Linked DNA regions of Homo sapiens: region 1 is linked to region 2. Evidence: fine-mapped expression QTL. A gene starts in region 2. The other region holds a variant in brackets. All regions are shown on one strand. Distances are from middle to middle.

Evidence for each region. PIP is the estimated chance that this variant, and not a neighbour inherited with it, causes the effect.
Region 1: its variant is fine-mapped to the expression of PRMT7 in cerebellum (GTEx, PIP above 0.99). The same link has a PIP of 0.9 or more in cerebellar hemisphere, cerebral cortex, gastroesophageal junction, hypothalamus, nucleus accumbens and tibial artery.

The regions. Positions count from the first base shown.
Region 1 is chr16:68,345,716-68,358,077 of GRCh38, forward strand. It overlaps PRMT7 (protein arginine methyltransferase 7), which reads left to right. Exons shown (of 19, transcript NM_019023.5): 10 at 1-87; 11 at 430-565; 12 at 1,496-1,579; 13 at 1,916-1,963; 14 at 2,627-2,716; 15 at 6,533-6,694; 16 at 7,777-7,851; 17 at 10,008-10,168; 18 at 10,986-11,082; 19 at 11,339-12,362. The coding sequence ends at 11,509. Among named protein-coding and RNA genes, the nearest start is that of PRMT7, 41 kb to the left of the region's middle. RefSeq lists enhancers at 2,989-3,489, 10,877-11,036. The variant G/A (reference allele first, on the strand shown) is at 5,807.
Region 2 is chr16:68,304,475-68,316,836 of GRCh38, forward strand. It overlaps PRMT7 (protein arginine methyltransferase 7), which reads left to right and starts at 6,545. Exons shown (of 19, transcript NM_019023.5): 1 at 6,545-6,625; 2 at 7,568-7,702; 3 at 11,423-11,600. The coding sequence starts at 11,506. It overlaps SLC7A6OS (solute carrier family 7 member 6 opposite strand), which reads right to left and starts at 6,472. Exons shown (of 5, transcript NM_032178.3): 1 at 6,261-6,472; 2 at 5,861-6,139. The coding sequence starts at 6,452. LOC124903789 (small nucleolar RNA U13) reads right to left here and starts at 8,866; the gene lies at 8,765-8,866. RefSeq lists an enhancer at 5,477-6,441.

The sequences.
Region 1 (12,362 bases), 41 kb after region 2:
AGAGGAGCCTGTGGTGCAGGGCTCAGCGCTCTATCTGGTAGCCCACCACGATGACTACTGCGTATGGTACAGCCTGCAGAGGACCAGGTACGTCGAGCCTCGTGGGGGTGGAGGATGAGCCTCTGAGACTTGTATGTAAATTCCCCATTTACAGATCCTCTGGAGGTGCCAGTGGGTTGATTTGTGTCTGGACAGAATAACATAAGAACAAAGATTTGTGACCAGTGTGTCAGTGCCCATTCGTGTGTACCCAGGAGAGGCTGTCATGGGTTGCTGGAATCTGTTTAGAGCAGATGCGTAGGAAAAGTCTGGAATTAGCGGGTGCTCTAAGCCCTCATGCCTACTGGAGACCAGTGTCCAGATTCATGCCCTCTGGAGACCTGTGGAGGCGCTCACAGCCCACGTCTGTTTGTTCATCTCCTGGCCTAGCCCTGAAAAGAATGAGAGAGTCCGCCAGATGCGCCCCGTGTGTGACTGCCAGGCTCACCTGCTCTGGAACCGGCCTCGGTTTGGAGAGATCAATGACCAGGACAGAACTGATCGATACGTCCAGGCTCTGAGGACCGTAAGTGTCCAGCCCCTTGGCTTGTTGTGGGGAAAAGGGAGAAAGAAGTTTGTCCCATGAACCCCAGCACTTTGCTTATGATTTGCTGTTTCTTTCCTGTGTCCTCTTGTCTATGAGTGGCTTCAGCGAGCGCCTCCTGGGTGGGCACTGGAGCAGAAAGCGGGAGAGCCTGGGGCTGGACTTCCTGAGGGCTTGCTCTCTGCTCTACTGGGAGAGCCTCTGGCTGGGCTCCTGCTGGACACCTTTGCCTTGTCAGACACAGTCATTGCTGTGGGTGGTCACGGTGGATTAGGCCACCCCCTCTTTTCATGTGTTGTCACCTTTCTAAAATTTTCTAAGATGTAAATCTGATCATGTCGCTCTCCTGCCTGAAAACCTTTGCTCCCTGCTACCTGTAGCAGGGGACTCGGCTTGGGGATTACAGATGGGGCTTAGAGGGAGGGTCTCTTGAGGCCCTTGGGGGTGTGTACAGAAATAGGTGTGAATGTGTGCATTTTGGGGGATGGGGGGAGGATCCAAGCCATCCTGAGTTTCTCTCAGAGGGGTCTGTCACCCAGAAAGGCATCCTTGCCTTTGGGCAGTCAATTGTGAACACTCAAGCCTTGGAGGCTCTCAGCTGTCTGTGCTCTAACCAGACAGGGAAGAAGCCTGTTGTCATGGACTGGAAGGTGGCCTGCAGGTGGTGCAGGCCTTCAGCGGGGCCTCTAGGCTGGGTTGAGGGGTGTCTTTCCTGACACTGGGGACAGGTGGGGAGATGTGAGCAAGGCGGGCATGTTTGTGGCTGGGGGTGGTTACTGCATGAGGACGCAGGGGGATGGTCTGAGGTCTGGGCAAGTGGAGTGAGAAGGGAAGTATTTCTGACAGCTTGCCAGCAGGAATCTTCTGGCAAACTGGAGGAAGCCCTGTGCTGAGCTTGCCTGTTCCCCGCAGGTGCTGAAGCCAGACAGCGTGTGCCTGTGTGTCAGCGATGGCAGCCTGCTCTCCGTGCTGGCCCATCACCTGGGGGTGGAGCAGGTACTGACATGCACCCTTGTCAGCCTCCTGATGTGGGCTTGTGAGTTAGAGCATTGCGTGGTCCGGGTGCACAATTCTGTGATCAAGGCTCTTTGCAAAGGCCACTGTTGTGGGCACAGCATGCTCGGGTCAGGGGCTGGGGGGTTTATTGCCTGTGCGTGCAGGCAGGCGTCAGGCCTCAGAGCTGGTGTTCAGGCTGCCCCAGGGAGGGAATGAGGGCAGGGAGGGTTGTTCAGGTGTGTCCTCTGTCTTAGGATGGTCTTGTCGCATTTTAATCTTTAATTTCTTCTCTGTTAAGTGAATATCTTACAACTAATAGCGTGGTGTTCCCTCTAGGTGTTTACAGTCGAGAGTTCAGCAGCTTCTCACAAACTGTTGAGAAAAGTAAGTGAGAATTGTTGTTGCTGAAATAGTGAGAGGACCTGTGGGGTCTGGGTTGATGGCTTTGAAGTGGCATTGGCCCCAGGGGAACAAAGGAGTGGTGGCTCGCTTGCACCCCTGTGTTGTCTTGGTTGCTGCCTGGAGAGCAGCCAGAGGCCTTGGGAGCTGTCACTGAAATAGAGGCAGGCATTTGCACTCTGCTTTGTTTTTTTGTGTCTGAAGAAGTTTAGGCTTTTTTCCTCACTTCACATAAGCTACTGTTGCGGTAGAATTAAATGTAGGATGTGTTTCTGGGACATCAGTGCTGAGGGAGCCAGTGCTCACAGCCTGATGGGAGATGGCATTTCTCTCCCTGGCCAGTAACTGGTTTGATTTCCTCTCCAAAGGGGAACTCCCTTCACCAGAACTGCAGGCTCGCACTGAGTCCTGGTGTGCACATGCGGGAGAAATTTCTTTTGCTTTTATCACATTGTGCTCCTGATCTCATCCGTGGTCTATAGGATGCCCCCCAAGGAGAGGATTTTTCCACAAAGCAGATAAAAGTGGTGTTCCAGAACCATTTGCCGGAAAATTCAAAGCGGAGAATGCAACTTTGAGAGATTTTTTTTTCCTGACAAACACAATACTTTAGTATGAATACAGTAATTTTACGGTTTTCTTTCTAAGATCTTCAAGGCTAACCACTTGGAAGATAAAATTAACATCATAGAGAAACGGCCGGAATTATTAACAAATGAGGACCTACAGGGCAGAAAGGTGAGTAGCGGGAGCCTTTTGGCCACGCTGGGCTGTGTTAGGGTGGTCAGCACGGCACTGAAGTAGCCCAGGCCCCACCCTGTCCCTGGAGTCTCACAGTGGGTCCTCCACATGCAACCTTACCTCCTACGAGCTCCCACCATCAAGGGTGTGGTGAAGCTTTCATGGAGCTGCCCGGTGAGCAGATGGTTGCACTGCTCTTTTTTTTTTTTTTTTTTTTTTTTTTTTGAAAATGGGGTCTCGCGCTGTCGTCCAGGCTGGAGTGCAGTGGCACGATCTTGGCTTACTGCAGCCTCGACCTTCCAGCCTCAAGCGATCCTCCCACCTCTCCCGAGTAGCTGGGACTGTAGGCATGTGCCATTATGCCTGGCTAATTTTTGTATTTTTTGTAGAGTCAGCGTTTCATCATGTGGCCCAGGCTGGTCTTGAACTCCTGGGCTCATGCGATCTGCCAGTCTCAGCCTCCCAAAGTGTCGGGGTTACAGGCATGAGCCACCACACCTGGCTGTACTGCTCTTAGCTCAGCCTCATCTCTGCTCCTTCAGGTCAGGACAGAGCAGCTCTCTTGGGGTTCCTAGGAGCAGAGCATGTCCTTTCCTCTCCACCGCACTCCTGTCTTCATTCCCCGTCCACGGCTTCCTGCTGCAGTCAGGCTTCCGGGCCCTGAAACTGCTTCTGCCAGCAACCTCGTCGTTACTCCCACGGTCTCCCTGCAGGCTTCATCTGCTCTACCCGCTTGTCCTTGTGACCCGGGACTTCTGCCTGTGCTGGGGAGGTCGCTTTCCCCTCACCTTCCTGGCTGCTCCTTACCTTGCACTGCTCCGTGGCACTCTCCCCGTGTCCCCCGCTTCCCCTACTGCATCCTCTCTGGTAATCACGTTCCTTCTCATGTGTGAATCAGTGACCATCAGAGCCGGCCTTCACTCTTTACTATTTTGGATTCAAATCTCATGTCCAGCTGCCATCCTGTCACCTTTCCTTGAATATGCCACAAACTGGACTCACCCAACGCGGAGCTATCATCTTTCATCTTTCCTGCCAGTCTTTTTTTAAATAACAGCTTTATTGAGATGTAGTTGACATACCACAAAATTAATGCATTTCAATTGTACAGTTGAGTGATTTTTTTAAGTAAATATATGGAGTTAGCCGTCACCCAGTCTCATTTAGAACATTTCCAGGCCCGACATGGTGGCACATGTCTGTAATCCCAGAACTTCGGAAGGCCAAGGTGGGAGGATCGCTTGGACCCAGGAGTTCAAGACCAATCTGAGTAACATAGGGAGACCCTGTCTCTATAAAAACAAAAAAAATTAACCGAGTGTGGTGGCACGTGCCTGTAGTCCCAGGAGGCTGAGGTGGGTGAGGTGGGAGGATCGCCTGAGCCCAGGAGTTGGAGGCTGCAGGGAGCCGTGCTTGTGGCAGAGCACTACAGCATGGCTGACAGAGTGATACCTTGTCTCTAAAAAAAATGGGAATGAAAAGAGAACATTTCTGTTACCTCCCAAATTCCTGGGAGCCTGTTGATAGTCTGCATCCCCATGCCCCAGGCCTGGCAGCCACTGGTCTGGTTTGTGTCTCCAGTATGTGCCTCTTCTGGCATATCTCAAAAGTGAGGTACGCAGTGTGTGGTCTTGTGAGTCTGGCTCCTTTCGCTGAGCATAATGTCTTTGAGATTCACCCATTTCGTTCTTTTGAAGGCTGTGTAGCATTCCACGGTGTGGCTATCCATTCATGTGCTTATGGACGTTTGGATTGTGTCCAGTTTTTGGCCACTTTGAATAAGGCTTCTGTGAACATGGATTCACTGGTCTTAGAGAGGATGTATGTCCTCAGTCTCTTATGCAGATGCCTTGGTGTGGATTGCTGGGTCATGTGGTAGTTACGATCGACTTTTTAAGAAGCTGCTGAACTGTTGGTTGAAGTGGCTGTCCTTTTGACATCCCCATCGGTAACATCTGAGGGTCCAGGTTCTCGGATCCTCACCAGCACCTGGCATTGGCTTTTTTTTTTTAGCATAACCATATTAATGGGAGTGTGGTGATGTCTCCACATAGTTTTAATTTGTATTTGCCCAATGACTGATGATGGTGAACATCATTTCGTGTGCTTGTCTTGCTTGGTGAAATGTCTATTCAAGCCTTTTGCCCATTTAAAAAAATAACAGTTTTATTGAGATATAATTCACATACCTTACGATTCACTCAGTGATTTTTGTATATTCATAAGGTTGTGTAACCATCACCACATCAGTTTAAGAACCCTTTCATTACCCATTGGCAGTCATGCACCATTTGTCCGCAGTCCCCCAGCCCTGGGCACCCACTCTTCTCCTTTCTGTCTTTAGCTTGCCCATTCTGGGCATCTTGTGTGAATGGAATCAGACAAGTGTGTGGTCTTTCGTGGCTGGCCTCTCATGTGGCTTCATGTTTTCGGGCTCATCCATGTCGTAGCCTGAATCAATACCTCATTTCTCTTTCTTGCTGAATAAGATTCCATTGTGTGGATAGACCATGTTATTTATCTGTTTCTCAGCTGATGGACATTTGGGTGGCTCCTACTTTTGGGCTGTTGTGAGTAATGCTGCTATAAATATTCATCCACAAGTCGCCTTTTTTCTCCCTCATAGATGAGGGCATAGGAGATGATTCTGAAAGCCACTGTGTGGTGTACCGGTAGACCGGGGTCACATTGAATTGGAGTGGTGGGAGCGGGCGTTCTTGCCATGTTCCTGATGCTGTGTGGGGAGGCGAGGAAGCACTCAGGGCAGCCCCTTCTGTCTGCCAGCATTTCCTGCTGCATCTCCATCATCTCTGACTGGCCCCACTTTGGTGCCTGACTGCTTGGGCCTGCCCAGGGTCGGCTACCTCCTTACCCTCTGCCACTCCTTCCACTCCTCCCACCCCTCCCACCCTGTAGTCTCCGTTTCTTACCCGGACTCTTTCTGCACTCTCCCAGGTCGCCTCCGTCCCCAGCACCTGCAGGTTCCCTTCCACACTTCGTGGTCCTCAGCAGCATCTTCTAAATCACATTCCTTCTGATTTTGAACCCTGATGAAAACTTCTAGTGACATCCACCACCCCCACTGCC[G/A]CCTCCGGGATGAGTCCAGCCCCTCACCCTGTCCTGGCTGCCTTGGGCTGGGCTGGCTTCTGTCCAGCTCCACACCCTCACCTTGGGGGGCCTTGCTGTCTCCCGGCCTCACTCTTGCCCCTGCTGCCCCTCCCTCGGCCGTTCAGGCTCCTCGCTGTGCACGTGTTCATTTACTCACAAATGTTCACAGAACATCTGGTCACGGCACTGGCCCACTGCTGGGGGATGCTGGGCCACCAGTCCCTGCTCTTGTGGTGCTCAGAGCCTGGGGAGGGAGACGGAGACAAGCCCCGGTAAGTCCTGAGATAAAGCGTCCAGTGGGGGTTGACAGGATGCCACTCTGGAAGCCCCGTCTGGCACGTTTATTTCTGGGCTCCCTCCATGACCCCCTTCCTTGCTTTTTTCTATCACATGGGGTCAGCCCCACTTTGTCTGCTTCCCTCTTCTGCTCTGCTCTCCTGAGCACGGGACTCATGTCTGGTTGTAATCTTTACAGCCTCCAGGGCAGGTACAGAGCACCTTGCTGCCTTGCTTGTTTGTTGACTGAGGGAGGGAGGGACTGATGAGGGAGGGAGGGAATGAGTGAGTGACTGAGTGAGGGAGGGAGAGGGAGGGAGTGAGGGAGTGACTTGAGTGACTGAGTGGCCTGTTGCTTCCGTGTTCCTGTTAACACTCCTGGACCGAGCCCTACTGACACCTGGGCCCTGCTTCTCGCCCATTCACCAGGTCTCTCTCCTCCTGGGCGAGCCGTTCTTCACTACCAGCCTGCTGCCGTGGCACAACCTCTACTTCTGGTACGTGCGGACCGCTGTGGACCAGCACCTGGGGCCAGGTGCCATGGTGATGCCCCAGGCAGCCTCGCTGCACGCTGTGGTTGTGGAGTTCAGGGTAGGCCACCCAGGGGATGTTGGAGAAAAAAGCAGAGGAGGCGGGTGGGGAACCTTGTTTTCTTGCAGGAACCTTGGGTGCCTGTAGAGCGGCTCAGGCCTTGATGATTTGAGCTTGTGTTTTCTTTCTGTGTCAGCACACTGTGGGGTTGAATAGAAGATGCTTGCCTTTTAAAAAATGCGATAATTTGACATACGAAATGGAAATGGCTGAGTGTTGTCATTTTACAATTGTGGCTTATCAGAATAATTTAAAAATATAAATTAAGCGTTTCAGAAGCCATGCCGTGTGGCCTGCTCTGCTCTCATTAATAGCCGAGGCTTCGATTGTTAAAGGCATTTTGAGATGGGAGAGTCAGCTGCTTTGTGCAAGAAAAAATGGAAAAGCTTCCTTTTAATTTTCTCATCAAAGCAGAACCATAGTCACAAAGTCATTTTGGGAAGGGCATTTTTATTAAAAGGATTTGAAAAGCTTTACCCTGGATGGAGAGTGTATCTCATTTGATGAGAGTGGTTTTCTCTCCTAGCTTAGTGGCTCCATCACTGAAAGTCTGGGCATTTCTCCTGTGTTACTTGTTTACCTAATCAGATTTCCACATGAATTCTGGTTTTCATGGCCAAAGAGGGGATGTCACGATCCATGCGTGCGTGTGACCAGGAGGAAGGGAGGGAAGGCTGTGTGGCCTGAGTGTCCTCTGGGTTCCTCTTGGCAGGGCCTTTTTCTCTCCCCAGCATCCTCATGAACTGGAGATGATGCTGGGGAGAGAATTGGCTTACAGATTTCTTCCCAAAGAAATGATGTTCAGGATGGCCCGGATAGGAGTGTGCAGCCCCCAGCCTAGGAGCTCTGGCCGACTGTCCCTTATAGGAGAGGACTCAGGTGTCACGTCAGAGCTTGCAGGTTCCCGCCCAGCCCAGTCTGTTACAGAAACCGTTGTGGATCTTTGTTCTCTCTGAGCCCCTTCATACTTGGGGGTCTCTTTCAGGTGTGCAGGGAACAGCAAGATGTGCCTCTTGTTCTTGCTGCCACGCTTCCCTGTGTCCTGGCGGGCGGGTGTGGACGGGGCTGCTCCTTCCTCACAGGACCTGTGGCGGATCCGGAGCCCCTGTGGTGACTGCGAAGGCTTCGACGTGCACATCATGGACGACATGATTAAGGTAGGCAGGGCCACACTCTGCATAGTACCCCCGACCTGCTCCTGTATCGCAGGCCTCTCACAGGGTCCCAGCTTGGGCAGCACAGGCTCTTCTGTTGGGGGCAGTGAGGTCAGGTGCTGCCATTTTGTGTGGTTCAACATGAGCATTGCTTGGTACCAGCCCTGTTCTTGGCTCCGTGCTGTCACCCTGTGTCAGAATCTCCACTGGGCCTGCACGTCCTGTCATTGCAACTGCCCCTGCCAGTGCCCACAGCTTCTTTTCTAGTGGGGCTGACTTTCCAGAGGCCATCTGGGAACCTTCTTAGGCAGCCATTTCCATGGTGGGGGCTCCATTCCCGGGAGGGGTACCTGAGGAGATTCCCACAGGTTATTTACATGGTAGGGGTTAGCAACTGGGCCTACGTTCTCCAGAACCATGGGCTGTCCTGACAGCGCCAGTGGTCCTTGGATTCATGAGGACTGAAGCTGAGAGTCGTGTTCCATCCACATGAGAGGGGCAGGGTGAGGAGCATGGGCCGTGCTGTGTATTAAGGAAATGCACGTGGCTCCTGCTTGTCATCCCAGCACTCTGGGAACCTGAGGCTGGTGGATTGCTTGAGCCCAGACGTTTGAGACCAGCTTGGGCAATATAGCAAGACCCTGTCTCGACAAAAAATAACAAAAAATTAGCCAGGCATGGTAGTGCACACCTGTATTCCCAGCTACTCAGGAGGCTGAGGTGGGAGGATGGCTTTAGCCTGGGAGGTCGAGGCTGCAGTGAGCTGCGTTTGTGCCACTGCCTCCAGGCTGGGTGACAGAGCAAGACCTTGTCTCAAAAAAAGAAATCTCATGGACACCAGAGGAGCGGGAAGCAGCGGTGGCCCCGCAGCAGCAGCTATGCATCGGGAGGTGGGGCTTTTCTGCTTCTGCTCACCTTTCTGCTCTCATTTTCCCATAGTGAACATGGATTGCCTGTGTGTGAACACTTTTTTAAGTAAATTAAACCTTGTGGATATTTTCAGTTTGTATCTTATCTGCCCCTCACAGCAGACCATTGACTGTTCGATGCTTTTAGAAATCTCCTTCGTGCTGAGCCCTGCGTGCTCTGGACCCATGCGCTCTACGCCTCCTCTGGGCCCCTGCTCATGGCCTGCCCACCCTGGCTGTCCCTGTCCCCTCTTGCTGATACGGTTCTGCTACTCTGGTCCTGGGCCAGTGTCTGTCTCTCGTGTGCTAAGGCAGATGGCCGAGAGTGGTGGGTATCCCACAGTGGGGTGCCAGGCATTTTTACTTCTATGCTTTCCAAATCCACCTGCCCTTCCCCACCCTTAGCCTGGCCCTTCCAGTGCCCTGTCTTAGACCTGGCGCCACTTCACACGACCAGCCAGGCCCAGGGCCCCGGGCATCCTCCCTGGCAAGTCCTCCCATCCCCTGCCATTGGTCTTCGTGCTCCTGGTGAGCCTCCGACCCAGGCTGTCCCCTGACTGCTGCCGTCCTGGTTTGAGCCCCTCCTGCTCTGGCCGTCCTCCACACGGAGCCCACATGAACTTGTAGATCTGAGTCTGGCCACATCCCCACTGCAGGAATGCCCTAGCTGGCTCCCCACACCACACCTGCAGAGTGGCCCGGCTGGCCTGGGTGCCCTGGCCTGCTCTCCTGACTTAGCTCTATCCTCAAGGCCCCCTCTGGCCCTTCTCCTGCCGGCTCCCATTTGACCGTCACCTCCCCTCCTCCAGGTAGCTTTCTGCATCCCTCCTGGATGCAGGTGCCCCCAGCCTGCCGCCAGGCACCGGGGCTGTACTGTCACGCATTTATCCCTCCCTGTGGCCCGGGGCCCACCTGTCGGGGCCACACAGCTGTGGTGGTCACCAAGTTTCTAGGTGCTGGGTGTTCTCACCAGTGATGTAGATATGTGGTCCTCAGAAGGCTTGAGACAGGCAGCACCACCCCATCTTAAAAATCCGGAGAGCGAGGCTCAGAGCCAGCGGTGCCTGGGGAGCCACTGATGAGAGAGAAGTGGCAGAGAGGGGGCGCCGCTGGTCTGCTGGGCGCTCGGCATCTTTATGGGAGAACGCACACCCCTTGTGACTGCAGTCAGTGGGAGCCAAGCCGGGGAGCGGTACCTCTGTCTAGCTGCCGGCCTGTCTCTGCAGCCCCCAGGCCCCCTTCTGTTCGCAGCGTGCCCTGGACTTCAGGGAGAGCAGGGAAGCTGAGCCCCACCCGCTGTGGGAGTACCCATGCCGCAGCCTCTCCGAGCCCTGGCAGATCCTGACCTTTGACTTCCAGCAGCCGGTGCCCCTGCAGCCCCTGTGTGCCGAGGGCACCGTGGAGCTCAGAAGGTGGGTGCAGAGAGGGCTGGGGGGCAGGGAGGGGCTGCTGCTTGCCCTTGGAGTTCTCACCCCCGTGGTGAGCACAGCTGGCCTGGGAGACGCTGACACGTGGAGGGGGTATTCGTCCTCCCCACAACCTTGCCCTTCCCTGTCAGAGTGGCCCTGCGCGTGTGGTGGTTCCCACGGTCCTGTGTGTGCCACTGGTGGAGGAGCCAGGAAGGGCTCTGCTCCCCCTCTACAGCTGAGGCTCCCTTGTTGGATCACAGCTCAGGAAGATGGGAGCTTACTTCCTGTGGTCACCGATGCACCATTTTCCTGAACCCTCCTGGGAGCTGAAGCAGGTCAGGGTCAGCAAGTGCTGCTTGCGTCCAGGGACGGGCAGCCCTGTCCTGCTCCGGCCCTCACCCCACCCTCGCCCGAGGAGTGACTTCTCCTGGAAGCACCTCCCAACTCGGGGCAGGCAGCCAGGCAGGGCGGGCGCCATCACCTGAGCTCCCAGGGTTGCTGTCTGGGGCATCAGAGGGGCCTTCCGGCCTTCAGTGCCAGGCTGTGCCTCAAGCTCCCCCAGACCCTGCAGCCACACCGGCCCTGCCCCATGTGTGGCCCGGCTGCAGGGCTCGGGTTGGCTCAGGTGGGGGCTTGGCTGCGGCTCTTCTGGCTGGGGTTTTTCTGAGGAACGTTTATGTAACTGCAGCACTAGGAACTCCCGGCAGGGCAGGAAGGAAGTGGGGAAGACCACAGGTTTCTGGAAAGCCGCAGGAGCTGCAGCTGTTCCCCCGCTGCCTCTTGTGTGACTACTTCTGCTGGGCCCCCCTCTCCTTGACAGGCCCGGGCAGAGCCACGCAGCGGTGCTATGGATGGAGTACCACCTGACCCCGGAGTGCACGCTCAGCACTGGCCTCCTGGAGCCTGCAGACCCCGAGGTAGTGCCTGCGCACCGGGCCCAGTGTGCGTGCAGACCCTGAGAGCAGGCGCCGCCTGGGGAGGCCTCCCTGCCCCCATGCTCTGGGTGTTTCTGTCACAAGTTCTTCGGGCCAGATGATGACCCCTCAGTGGTCCTGGGCCATCTGGCCCCTGAGCAGCTTCTCTCTGCTGCGAGCTGCCTGGGCTGGAGGCTGGCTAGGAAGGAGGCTCAGGTGCCAGGGAGCCCTCACCATCTTCCTGCTCTTCTTCCTACAGGGGGGCTGCTGCTGGAACCCCCACTGCAAGCAGGCCGTCTACTTCTTCAGCCCTGCCCCAGATCCCAGAGCACTGCTGGGTGGCCCACGGACTGTCAGCTATGCAGTGGAGTTTCACCCCGACACAGGCGACATCATCATGGAGTTCAGGCATGCAGATACCCCAGACTGACCACTCTTGAGCAATAAAGTGGCCTGAGGGCTGGGGTTCTGAGTGGCTCATGGCTTTCTAGCGGGGAAGGCTGAAGGCCCTCCTCTCCTCTCTGGGAGCTGCTCGGCCTCAGGGATGGGAAAGACTGCGCCGTGTTGCATCTTGTTGCATCTTTGCACTGCTGGCCTCTGGCTCCAGCTGTGGCAGGAAGCATGAGAGGGTGACTGAATTTGGAGCCCTGGAGGGGCTGGGAAGACCCCCCTGCTTGTGCTTCTGAGGTGCTGAGAATGCTCCAACACAGAGACATCTCTCCCCAGCTGGGAAGGGAGTGGAAGCACAGGGAGCTTGTGGGGCTGGCCGGTGGGGTTGTCCACGCCGCCCTTGGCGAGCAGTCCCCGTGGCGGGAGCCTGTCCTGTCTGTCTCACTCTCGAGGATCTCCGGGTCCCTGCTCTTCTGGCTTCTGCTAGGAGGGTGGAGATGCTGAGTTGTGGCTGGGTCTCTGGGGCTTGAAGACCCTGGCTGGGCCCGGGCTGAGAGGCCTGGGTTCTGGCCCTTTCACCTGACAGGTAACTTCAAGCCACATCCATAGGTGTCTGGCCTCAGTGCTGCACCAGCTGGTGGCCTGCCAGGACCTGAGACTGGACACAAGGCAGCTGTCCCAGAGCAGTTCCTGAGATGCAGGCCCAGGAAAGTGGCTGTCAGGGGAGCTGGGAGGCAGCCCTGTTCCCTGCACCTCCCTCAGATTGGAAAGCCCCTCCTGCAGGTGGGGTATGGCAGGGAGCAGCCCCTGCCCAGCGCCGCTTCACCAGGAAGGTCAGTAGGTGCCGTGGCCTTGCTTCTCTCACACACTAACCCCCCTTTGGTTATGTCCCA
Region 2 (12,362 bases):
CATGCCTGGCTAATTTTTTGTATTCTTAGTAGAGATGGGGTTTCACTGTGTTAGCCAGGATGGTTTTGATCTCCTGACCTCAAGTAATCTGCCCGCCCCAGCCTCCCAAAGTGCTGGGATTACAGGTGTGAGCCACCTTGCTCAGCTACAGTTCCATAGTGTTGTGGTCAAGATTCTTATCCCCATGAATTCCTAGTCTTTTAATTAATTATTACATTAAAAAATCAAGAATCTCTGTAAAATTAATGTGTAGTTCTTACTTTAAGATAGAAACGTACAAGATAGGCTCCTGCTCTTTTGTGCTTGGCTCTCACACCTATAATCCCAATGCTTCGGGAAGCCAAGGTGGACAGCTTGCTTGAGCCCAGAAGCTCAAGACCAGCCTGGCCCACATGGCAAAACCCCCGTCTCTACAAAGAAATACAAAAATTAGCTGGGTGTGGTGGTGTGCACCTGTAGTCCCAGGTACTCAGGAGGTTGAGGCTGCAGTGAGCCGTGATCATGCCACTGTACTCTATCCTGGGTGACAGATTAAGACTTATCTCAAAACAATGAAAGAAAAAAAATATGGGAAGACTGGCCTAAGGAGAGGGGAAAGACAGAAGACCTGGCCAGTCTTGACCCCAAGCTCTGAGTCAGACCTGCTTCTATAGGTCTTCTGAGATCCTTTGGTATTATACAATGTTCTCTCTTTGGGGATCAGTAGGTCCACCGTAGCACCCCTATGGCTGAACCTGAAATGAGTCTCTATTTTGTGTGGCCTCCTGTAGAAGCCAACAGGTGTTTCCTGGTGACCTCTACCATTGCCCATCATTTGGCTTGCCATATATTGACATCCTACTTTTAACCACAAATTGGGAATGGGCTCACCTATAGTCTTTCTACTGGAAAGAACAGTTTGAAATGCAATGCCCCAGAATAGAAATGGCCCAGGTAAGATGTGCTCCAGTGCTGACAGGCTGTATTATCCAGGGGCCTGGTAGCATGGGTCAGTTTATTAACCACAGGGACATGCTGCAGATGGCTCCTCTTGATAGGTTCATCACAGGACACTGCACAGCTCCAAGCAGACACCACGCAGGAAAATGGGGAAGATCCCATGGCCAAGGCAGACAAGGGGAGACCAATGCTATAATTTACAGACTAAGGAATTCTTCCTTGCTCCAAAGTCAAAAAGAAGCTAGAGATGCCAGTTTTTCTGCAGAACCTTGAGCAAACTTAAAGTTACCTATGACAAAAGTTCTGGCTCCAACCCCTAAGTCCCTCCACTCAGTCAAATTATGCAGCCATTAAAATATAAGATTGCTGGGCACAGTGGCTCATGCCTGTAATCACAGCACTTTGGGAAGCCAAGGTCGGAGGAATGTTTGAGCCCAGGAGTTTGAGACCAGCCTGGGCAACATGGCAAAACCGTCTCTACAAAAAATACAAAAATTAGCTGGGTGTGGTAGCGCAGGCCTGTGGCTCCAGCTACTTGAGAGGCTGAGGCAGGAGGATCACATGAGCCCAGGTGGAGGCTGCACCGAGCCGTGATCATGCCACTGCACTCCAGCCTGGGCAACAGAGCGAGACGCTGTCTCAAAAAAAGGTACAAGACTAGCAATACAGAAAAATGACAGATACAGAATTTTGTACTCAGAAGGAAATAAACCAGTTCTATTCTACCTACTTTTGGGTTGATGGTAAAATGGGAGATTTTCCTCCTTTGCTATATTTTTTCAAATTTCCCATAATGAGCATAAATTATTTTTTTTCTTTTTTGAGATGGAGTTTCGCTCTTGTCACCCAGGCTTGAGTGCAATGGCGTGATCTCAGCTCACTGCAACCTCTGCCTCCCGGGTTCAAGTGATTCTCCTGCCTCAGCCTCCTGAGTAGCTGGGATTACAGGTACGCACCACCATGCCTGGCCAATTTTTGTATTTTTAGTAGAGACCGGGTTTCACTATGTTGGTCAGGCTGGTCTCAAACTCCTGACCTCATGATCCACCCACCTTGGCCTCCCAAAGTGCTGGCATCACAGGCATGAGCCACCGCGCCCGGCCTATTATTGCTTAAAGAGGCGGTTTTCATTATGTTGCCCAAACTGGCCTTGAACTCCTAGCCTTAGATGATCTTTCTGTTTCAACCTCCTGAGTAGCTGGGACTAAAGGTGTGCACCACTCCTCCTAGCTAGAAGAAAAATAATTATTATTATTTCTGTAGAGATGGAGTCTTGCTATGTTGTTCAGGATGGTCTTGAACTTCAGGCCTCAAGCAATCCTCCTGCCTTAGCCTCCCAAAGTGCTAGGATTATAGGAGTAACCCACCGTACCCTTGCTGAAAATTATTTTGAAGTCTATGTCCATGTGTATTCATTCATTCATTCATTCATTCATTCATTCACTCAGAATCAGGGTCTTGCTCTGTCGCCCAGGCTGGAGGGCAGCAGTATGATCATGGCTCACTGCAGTCTTTAACTCCCGGGCTCAAGTGCTCCTTTCTTGGCCTCCCAAAGTATTGGGATTACAGGTGTGAACTACTGAGCCCAGCCCATATTTTCAGTTTCACTACACACAGCATTTTGTACTGTTAAACATATATATTTTCGCCCACAATCAGTTTTCATGGTTATCAGTTCTAAGGGTCCAGACAGTTGTATGTGTCAACCTCTTGGATATAATTTTTAACCTCCATGTATAGTGTTGCAATGAATGTGCCATTTCCTGCATTTGAAAAGTATCTCACTCATAAGGTTTTTGTGAGGATTAAATGAGTTAAATTAAAAGAAAATATAACAAGTACCTAGCACGCTATTTGACATAATTACTTAGTCAATCAACAGTAGCATTTGTTAATATCATAGCTTAGCTTAGCTGTTTGCTTCTGCTGAATTATCTCCCTAGGATAAATCTTGGAGGTGAGACTACTAGTTAAAAGGAACTGAAGTCCTTTAATTTTTAAATTTCCTATTAAATTTATCTAATAGGAATTTATTTGCTTAAAATGTAAATTGTGTCAATTTAAGGAGAAATTCATTGTAACATAACATAGAAATGCTGTCATTTTTAAATTTCCTTAGAAATTTTTAATTTTAAAATTTTCCTAGATTATGCATGGCTTTAGATCCAAACAATAATAAATTTACATATGTAAAACATGGCTCCCATGCCATCCTGTTTTCCAAAAGGCTTGCATCAATTTTATTCCTACAATTGTGTACGCTTTTAATCATTGCCTTGCCAGCATTGCTATCAACTACTTTTTTCCTGCTAGTCTAGTATGCATAAAACCTCAAGCATGCTTTAAGCTTAAATTCATTTTTCCCCTATAATTACTCTGTGCAAACATTTTTGGTATGTTTAGAGTCGGTATTGCTTTACTGGAAAAATCTCTGTTCATATCGGTCATCAGTTTATCTCCTAGTTTTCTTTATAAAATTAAATTAGCTATTTACTCTTGTTTTTTGAGATGGAGTTTTGCTCTTCTCGCCCAGGCTGGAGTGCAGTGGTGCAATCTTGGCTCACTGCAACCTCTGCCTCCCGCGTTCAGGCGATTCTCCTGCCTCAACCTCCCGAGTAGATGGGATTACAGGCGCCCGCCACCACGCCCGGCTAATTTTTGTATTTTTAGTAGAAATGGGGTTTTGCCATATTGGCCAGGCTGGTCTTGAACTCCTGACCTCAAGTGATCCACCCGCCTCAGCCTCCCAAAGTGCTGGGATTACAGGCATGAGCCACTGTGCCCGGCCTAGTGAACTATTTACTTGATTCAATTCCACGGAGCATTGGTTTACTTTACACATTTTGTAAGTCATGCATTAGTCTGGAATGTTTTGGTGAAAGATGTGGCTATGGACATCATACACAAATTGCTATCCACTTACACTAGCACCAGCTGGACGTGGTGGCTCACGCCTGTAATCCCAGCACTTTGGGAGGCCGATGCGGGTGGATCACCTGAGGTCAGGAGTTCAAGACCAGCCTGGCCAAGGTGGCGAAACCCCGTCTCTACTAAAAATACAAAATTAGCCGGGTGTGGTGGCTCATGCCTGTAATCCCAGCTACTCGCGAGGCTGAGGCATGAGAACTGCTTGAATCCAGGAGGCAGAGGCTGCGGTGAGCCGAGATCGCGCCACTGCACTACAGCCTGGGCGACAAGGGCGAGACTCCATCTCAAACAAAACAAAAACAACAATAAACAATTACACTAGTACCATTTGCTTGTTGCTTGTGGATTCATTTTGAATTATAATTGTTTTAAGTTGCAAAAATAATTAAAATGAGTTCTATAAAAATGTTTATCAAGAGAGGGCATATTGGCTAGGCGCAGCGGCTCATGCCTGTAATCCCAGCACTTTGGGAGGTTGAGGCGGGCGGATCACTGAGGCCAGGAGTTCAAAACCAGACTGGCCAACATAGCGAAACCCCGTCTCTACTAAAAATACAAAAATTAGCTGGGTGTGGTGGCTCACGCTTGTAATCCCAGCTATTTGGGAGGCTGAGGTAGGAGAATTGCTTGAACCCGGGAGTTGGAGGTTGCAGTGAGCCAGCATCATGCCAATGCACTCTAGCCTGGGCAACAGAGTGAGACTCTGACTCAAAAAAAAAAAAAAAAAGAGAGGGCACACTTTATGTTGAGAATTTTCTGGTTTTTTTTTTAGAGACAGTATCTTGCTCTGTTGCTCAAACCAGAGGGCAGTGACTTGATCACAGCTCACTGCAATCTCTAATTCCTGAGTTTAAGTGATCCTCCTGCCCCAGCCTCCCCAGTAGCTAGGACTACAAGCGCGTGCCACAATGCCCAGCTAATTTCCTCTTCCTTTTTGTAGTGACAAGGTCTTGCTTTGTTGCCCAGGCTGGCCTCAAGCGACCCTCCTGCCTCAGCCTCCCAAAGCGCTGGGATTACAGGGAGTATTTTATTTTTTTTTGAGACAGGGTCTCACTCTGTCACCTAGGCTGAAATGCCACTGCCGCACAATCATGGCTCACTGTAGCCTTGACCTCCCCAGGCTCAAGTGATCCTCCCGCCTGGGCCTCCCTACGTGCTAGGATTAGGCGTCAGCTACTGTGCCCAGCCTCAAGGAGAATTTTCCATTTCTGTAGTTTTGCTGCATGTAGTAGACTTTTTTTGGAAGTGATTGCAAATGAAGTTAGCAAATGTAATATAAAGAAAAGCACTGGATTAAATGTGAGAAAACTTGCATTCTAGACCTAAATCTACCTCAAACTTGATATGCTATCCAGGACTATTCCTTTAACCTCTCTTTGATCAATTTTCCTACCTGCTCTATCTCTATTTTGCTCCAGTGATCCCCATCTCAGTCAGGGTGAAAGGCAATGTCCTTGCAAGTACCTAGCAGGCATCCTCCCCTCAAATTCCTTACTGCTCTCCTCTAGCTCACCGGGCTCCAGGCACCTTGCAAGGAGCAAAGAAACGGCTTAAGGGCCTCTTTACTTTCAGGTTCTCTGCCTAGAAGTCCTCTCGATATGTGGAATACCCTGCCATTCACCTTCTGCAAGTCTTCACTCAAATGTCATTTCCTCAGTGACACTCTCACTGAAGTGGCACCACTCTTCCTGCTTTGTCTCCCCGCCTCCTTACATCCCTTATCATCATCTGACACTGAATAGACTTGTTTACTGTTTCTGTCTACCTGCATGTTAGGTCCTCACTGCTGTATCCACAGAATCTAAAAAAATACCTGGCATATCGTAGGCACGTAGTAAACACATGTTGGATGAACAACCAAATCTGTAAAATGAGGCCGTCACGCCGGATGGATCATCCATCCCCTTAAGATGAAACTGTGCTGCGACTGGGCCCAGTCTTCTTGCATTACCATCCTGAGAAGCCCAGCGACCACCTTCAGGGGCATACTCACTTTGCAGGAGCCTGCAGAGGCGGCTTCAGGTTCTCCCTCCTCGTGGACAAGGTCTAACAACTGAAAGCCCGAGTTCCCGGCGGCTTCTGGGTTCCCCGGCGTGTACTCGGACTCCTGGCCGCTCGAGGTGGTCCCCAAGGATCGGCGGCTGGAAAGCACCCGGTAGCGGCCCTCCTGCCGGACCTCCCGAGCCGAGGCGCGGAGATTACGGCGGACACGCTGCTGGCTGTCCCGTGACGGGCGCAGAACTTCCCGCAGGAGAGGCTGGACTGGTTCCTCCTAGGGGGCAACAGGGGACGGAGGCCAGCGTAAGCAGGAGTTCGCGAGCGGGTCAGGGATCGGGTTTCGTACCGGCTGCACCCGAAGATGCCCTCCACACCAGCTGCACCACGCCCAATACCTGGGAGCACACAGTGGCCACCAAGTGGAAGACATTATTCTCCGCCGCTCTCTCCAAACCCTCCGACGTCTTCTGTGCCGCTGACTCGACCGCGTCGCTCCGGAGGCGTTTACAAGCGAGCACAAGAGCCTCCGCCGGCTCCGCACTGCGCTTCCGCTTCACCCGGAGTACAGCGGTCCTGGCGGCCTCCATAGTGGCTGCCGCTGAGCACTGTGGGAGCTCGCGGGGTGTGATGGGATAGCTTTCCAGTTCTGCTTTAGGACCCGCCCCCCAGCACGCTCCTCGACGCTGCGAGGTCCCGCCCCGCGTGCTGGCCGCGGTAAAAGTGGTAGCAGCGGAGGCGAGCGGAGGGTTTCCCGCGGCGGGTGAGGCGCTGGGTATGCTGGGAAGGTGGGGTCGCTTTGGGGTTCTGTGTGCAGCGAGCATGGTGTCCTTGGCACCAGGGTTTCGGCAGAGGAGCCTAGCGTGGGCCTACTTGGACTCCTCCGCGTGGGGCAGCTCGGGACACCCGGGCCTGCAGGAGAGCGGGGTTCTAGGCTGGCCCCGGCTCTGCAGTGCAGCCGGGTGCCTGCCACTCGCGGGGCTCTGTCGCAGTACTCGTGCCTGGCGCCTCCCCTCAGCCACAGAGACCGCAGTAGCTCCAACCATCGCACCCCTAACTGGGCCACGAGTTCTCTGATTGCCAGACCTGTTGTCTTTGCCACTCACTGTTCTGAGTAATTGGAGAGTCGTGTATTCACTACACGCCAACCAGAGTGGTCCTGTAAAAGCGTAAGCCTAGTGTAGATACGCTTCTGCTTAAAACTCTTGAGTGGCTCCCAGTGCTTTTAGAACAAAATCCAAACGCCTTTCCGAAGTCGACAAGGCCCAGCTTGATTGAGCAGAAGATGTGATAGGAGATGAGGAGCGGGGGGCTTCTGCAAAAGTGCTTCGGTCGCTCAGGCTTTTGGCACATTTTGCTTATGCAACCTAGTTCTTTCTACCTTAGGGCCTTTTCTTGGGAAAGTTGGGGTAAGGATTCCTGACCTGTAAAAACTCTTCCCCAACTTTTATCCCGGTCTGTCTTGTAGATCTCAAATGCTAGTTTCCTCAGAGTCCTTCTGTAACCTTGGTTTTCTCTTTCTACAACGCTCTGTGTATTTCTTGCATTCATGTAGTCTGTAATTTGTATTACTCTCTCATTAGAGTCTAAGCTCTTGGAGGGCAAGGGTCTTCTCTAGCTTGTGGTGGTGGCTCCAGTCCCTAATATAGTGCCTGGCACATAGAAGGTATTTAATAAATTTTGTTATTTTATTTTTTCGAGACAGAGTCTCACTCTGCTGCCTAGGCTGAGTGCAGTGGTGTGATCGAGGCGCACTGCAGCCTTGACCTCCTGGGCTCAAGCGATCCTCACCTCGGCCTACCGAGTAGCTGGGACTACAGGCACGCGCCACTACACTCGGGTAATTTTTAATTTTAATATATGTATATTTATATATATATATATATATATATATTTTTTTTTTTAAGACAGGGTCTCACTCTGTCACCCAGGCTGGAGTTCAGTGGCGCCATCTCTGCTCACTGCAACCTCTGCCTCCCGGGCTCAAGTGATTCCCCTACCTCAGCCTCCCGAGTAGCTGGGAGTAACTGGGACTACAGGCACAGGCCACCGCGCCCGGCTAATTTTTTTAAAAATTTTTTGTAGAGAACGGGGTCTCACTATGTTGCGCAGGCTGGTCTGGAACTCCCAGACTCGATATCCTTGCGTCTCGGCCCCTCACAGTGCTGGGATCACAGGTGTGAGCCACCACCGCCTAGCAAATACATTTTGAATGAATGTAGTGGACCATCTGCTCTGCAGTCTGACGGCTAATACAATTAGGGCTTGGCATGGTGGTTTCTATTTCCTCCTTGTAAATGGCCATGCAAGTTTACAACTCTTGGAGAATGAGGAGGGGTTCAGAGAATATCTCCTGAATCTGTAGTGTAGACTGCTTCTGGGAGAGAACAAATAATAATGGATGAGGGCATTCAGCCAGAGAAGGTGTGTAGTGCCCACCAGAAGAGGTTCATGCCTTCATAAAATTGTTAACACAAGACATAGTTCCAGGTTTGTTTGTTTGTTTGAGATACAGTCTTGCTCTGTTGCCCAGGCTGGAGTGCAGTGGCGCGATCTTGGCTCACTGCAACCTCTGCCTCCCAGGTTCAAGCAATTCTCCTGCCTCAGCCTCCCAAGTAGCAGGGATTACAGGCACCTGCCACCATGCTGGCTAATTTTTTGTATTTTTAGTAGAGACGGGGTTTCGCCATGTTGGCCAGGCTGGTCTCGAACTCCTGACCTCAGGTGATCCACCTGCTTTGGTCTCCCAAAGTGCTGGGATTATAGGCGTGAGTCACCGTGCCTGGGCTGTTCCAGGTTTTGAAAAGACACTGTGGTCCTGGTTTTAGACTCAGCAACATCACAGACAAGAAAGGAATCCTATGGATTAAAGTTCTTCACTATAAGTTTTTTTTTTCCTCCAGTTCAAATGGGTAACGTGCCAATGTAGTAAAGGTTTGAGGGAGGCACGTCTGACACAGGCACATGAACACCCAGTCATCACGCTTATGAACTACAAAACGATGACTCTTAACCTTGAAGTGACTTCAGAATTGATTCCACATGGACCACAGGATTAGTATTTCAGGACTCTACCATATGGATCCTATTGATATGTTTGACACCTGGTCCAGTTTTACTTCACTAAACTGATTGATATAATGTGCATGATTGTCTAAGCCTTTCTAATTGGATGAAATGCCTTCTCCGTCCACAACCCCCTCCTTCTCCTCCTGCCTCAGCTGAATCCACCTTTTAAGCCTTCCTTGAACATTCAGTCAGATATGGCCATTTCTTTCTCTACTCCAACATTTGTTGGACACAGTTTTCTAATGCACATTACAGATTCTGACAGTTCTAGATATTCTGTCTGTAAAATAAATGTTAGTACATGAGATAAAGTGGATTATAGCAATGTTGTTAAACTGCTGGTTGCAACCCATTGATGGGTCCTGACCAGCAAGTAAAAGTGCAGCTGGGTGCCGTGGTGCATGCCGGTAGTCTAGCTACTTGGGAGGCTGACGTAGGAGGATCGCTTGAGTCCAGGAGTTTAAGGCTGTAGAGTGTAATGATCATGCCTGTGAATAGCCACTGTGATCCAACCTGGACAGCAGGGAGATCCCATCTCTTAAAAACAATAAAAATGAAATAGAGCATATCAGAGGGCCTTGTTCGTAGGAAGTCAGTATTGTTTTGTGGAACATTTAGTTGTATGCGTACATGCAGGTATGTGTATTGAGTCTCATTTTAAAGTATATTTCTTACTGGGGTTATCAGAAAGTTTGAAAATCATTAGACTAGGGGATAGGTATGCTGAGATTTTAGTAGTAGAGTTTTACCTGGACAAATTGTCTACTTTGAACCTGACTGCCGGCCTGAGTTTGTTCAGGGAAGATTGTTTCTAATCTATTTGCTTTTTGTTTGTTTGTTTTGGTGACGGAGTCTTACTCTGTTGCCCAGGCTGGAGTGCAGTGGTGCGGTCTCAGCTCACTGCAACCTCCGCCTCCTGGATTCAAGTGATTCTCCTGCCTCAGCCTCCTGAGTAGCTGGGAATACAGACGTGCGCCACCATGTCTGGCTAATTTTTGTATTTTTAGTAGAGACGAGGGTTTCGCCATGTTGGCAAGGCTGGTCTTGAACTCCTGACCTCAGGTGATCCGCCTGCCTTGGCCTCCCAAAGTGCTGGGATTACAGGTGTGAGCCACCGTGCCCAGCCTGTTTCTCATCTATTTGTGTAAGAATTCCATGTTTACTTACTCTAGATAACTTCAAAAGAAAAAAAACTCTGGCCAATAAAATGCCATAGGAATGTTTAGGGATATGTGGAGTAGGCATTCTTTCTAAGTTTTCCTGAAGATGCACCAATGTTTAACAAGAAAGGAAGGGCAGTGTAGAACACCTATTGCTTTCTGCATGGTAAGAGGGATGGGTATTGGGAGAGCCCACACCTGCTGAGGAGTGCCTTTAGACTTTGAGCGGTGGTGTTTCTCTCCCTCCCAGAAATAGATCTCTTTGGGGAGACAGGCCATACAAGACGTGAATCTGGTGACATTTTACTTGTTTGAAGCAAAATTTTTTTAGATGATGGAGGGTTTTTAAAAATTGCTTTTAAAATTAAAATTTGAATAGATAAGAAGTAATCACTATAAAAAATAATGAAGCATAAGGAATGCTAGTATTAGCTGGGTGTGGGGCACTCACTTGTAGTCCCAACTACTGGAGAGGCTGAGGCAGGAAGAATGCTTGAGCCCAGGAGTTTGAGTCCAGCCTGGGCAACATAACGAGACCCCATCTTTTAAAAAAAAAAAAAAAGAAAAAGAATGCTAATATCGTGAACATTTATGTTCCCACCACCCAATTTAAGAAAAAGAACAATACTTTTGAAGTCCACTGCGTACCCCTCCTTGATCCCATCTCTTTCCCTTCTCTTTTAGGAGTTAACTATCCTGATTCCTTGCTATGCTTTTTAGTGTGATCCCTGAAGAACGTATCACTCCATTTTGCATAGCTATAAATTTCATAGAAATGGAATCGTATTGCATGTGTTGTGTGATTTGCTGTTTTTGCTCATCATTATATTCCTGGGATTATCCATTTTTAGGTTTATGTGTGACTGTAATTTATTGTTTAGATGAAAGTTTTCCTGGTTTGACTTGCTCTATCTTCATATTTTTCCTTAAGCTAAGGGTTCAGCATACGAAGGCAGTATTGGTGGCACTTCTTTAACAGTACCCCATCTCTTCTCCTAGCCTTGAGGGCTGCACCTAGATGAACTTGTGAGGCTCATTTGAACCTTTTGGAAGCACCGAAGCCTGCTGAAGTTTCCAGACATCTGTATGAATCTGTTGTAGTTTTTTAATGTTATATGCTGAATATAAAACCAAGTAACTCCTGCTGGAAACATTTACAATATCGATTAACAAATACTATCAGTGGCTTTGACATTTTTGTCAGTTTCTTGATTTTTTTCCCCGCTTTTGTCTCCCCTTCCCCCCTCCACATTTTGGGGCATTGTGCTGTTAATAGATTTTTTTTCTGTTCGTTTGTTTATATACCTCCTGTTTCCTTCTGATGTTAATAGATTTCTGACAGTCAGACTTGTCCACAAGAACTCAACTGGCAAGGCTGCTTTTCTGTGCTAAAACTGGGGAGCTAGTGGGCACCATGAAGATCTTCTGCAGTCGGGCCAATCCGACCACGGGGTCTGTGGAGTGGCTGGAGGAGGATGAACACTATGATTACCACCAGGAGATTGCAAGGTACTGGGTTGGTTTACAGCAGGCTGCAGCTGGGTGGGGCACTTGATCTCAAAGCAGATGCCTTGGGCTCCAGTCTGAGCGTGGGCTAGGCTGTCACCCAGTGCTTATGATGAGGGCTGGTGTTGGTCCTGAGCAGGTCTGCTCAGCCAGGTAGGTATATGTAGCAGTTAGGCAAAATCATGCCTGTTTGGAGAGTCAGACATTATGTAGCAGCCTTAGCAGAGCCTCAGCATCTGTTTAACGGAGCAAAGAAAACCCAAGCCTCAGTAGTGTTGATGAAGTTGAATCATTTACTTGCCTTACTGAAATGGTGACATGTTCATCATATGGTTAAATTCTTTTGAATGAAAAAAATGAAAATGGTTTTTTTTTTCCCTTAGAAGAAATATTTAAAAGTATGTGAGTTGTTGGCCAGGCGCAGTGGCTCACGCCTCTAATCCTAGCACTTTGGGAGGCCGAGGTGGCCAGATCACCTGAGGTCAGGAGTTCGAGACCAGCCTGACCAACATGGAGAAACCCCGTTTCTACTAAAAATACAAAATTAGCTGGGCATGGTGGCTCATGCCTGTAATCCCAGCTTACTTGAGAGGCTGAGGCAGGAGAATCACTTGAGCCTGGGAGGCAGAGGTTGTGTTGAGCCGAGATCGAGCCATTGCACTCCAGCCTGGGCAACAAGAGCGAAACTCTGTCTCAAAAAAAAAGTATGTGAGTTGTTATGTAGCAATCATTAAGTGCATTCAGTGTGCCAGCATTGTGCTAAGG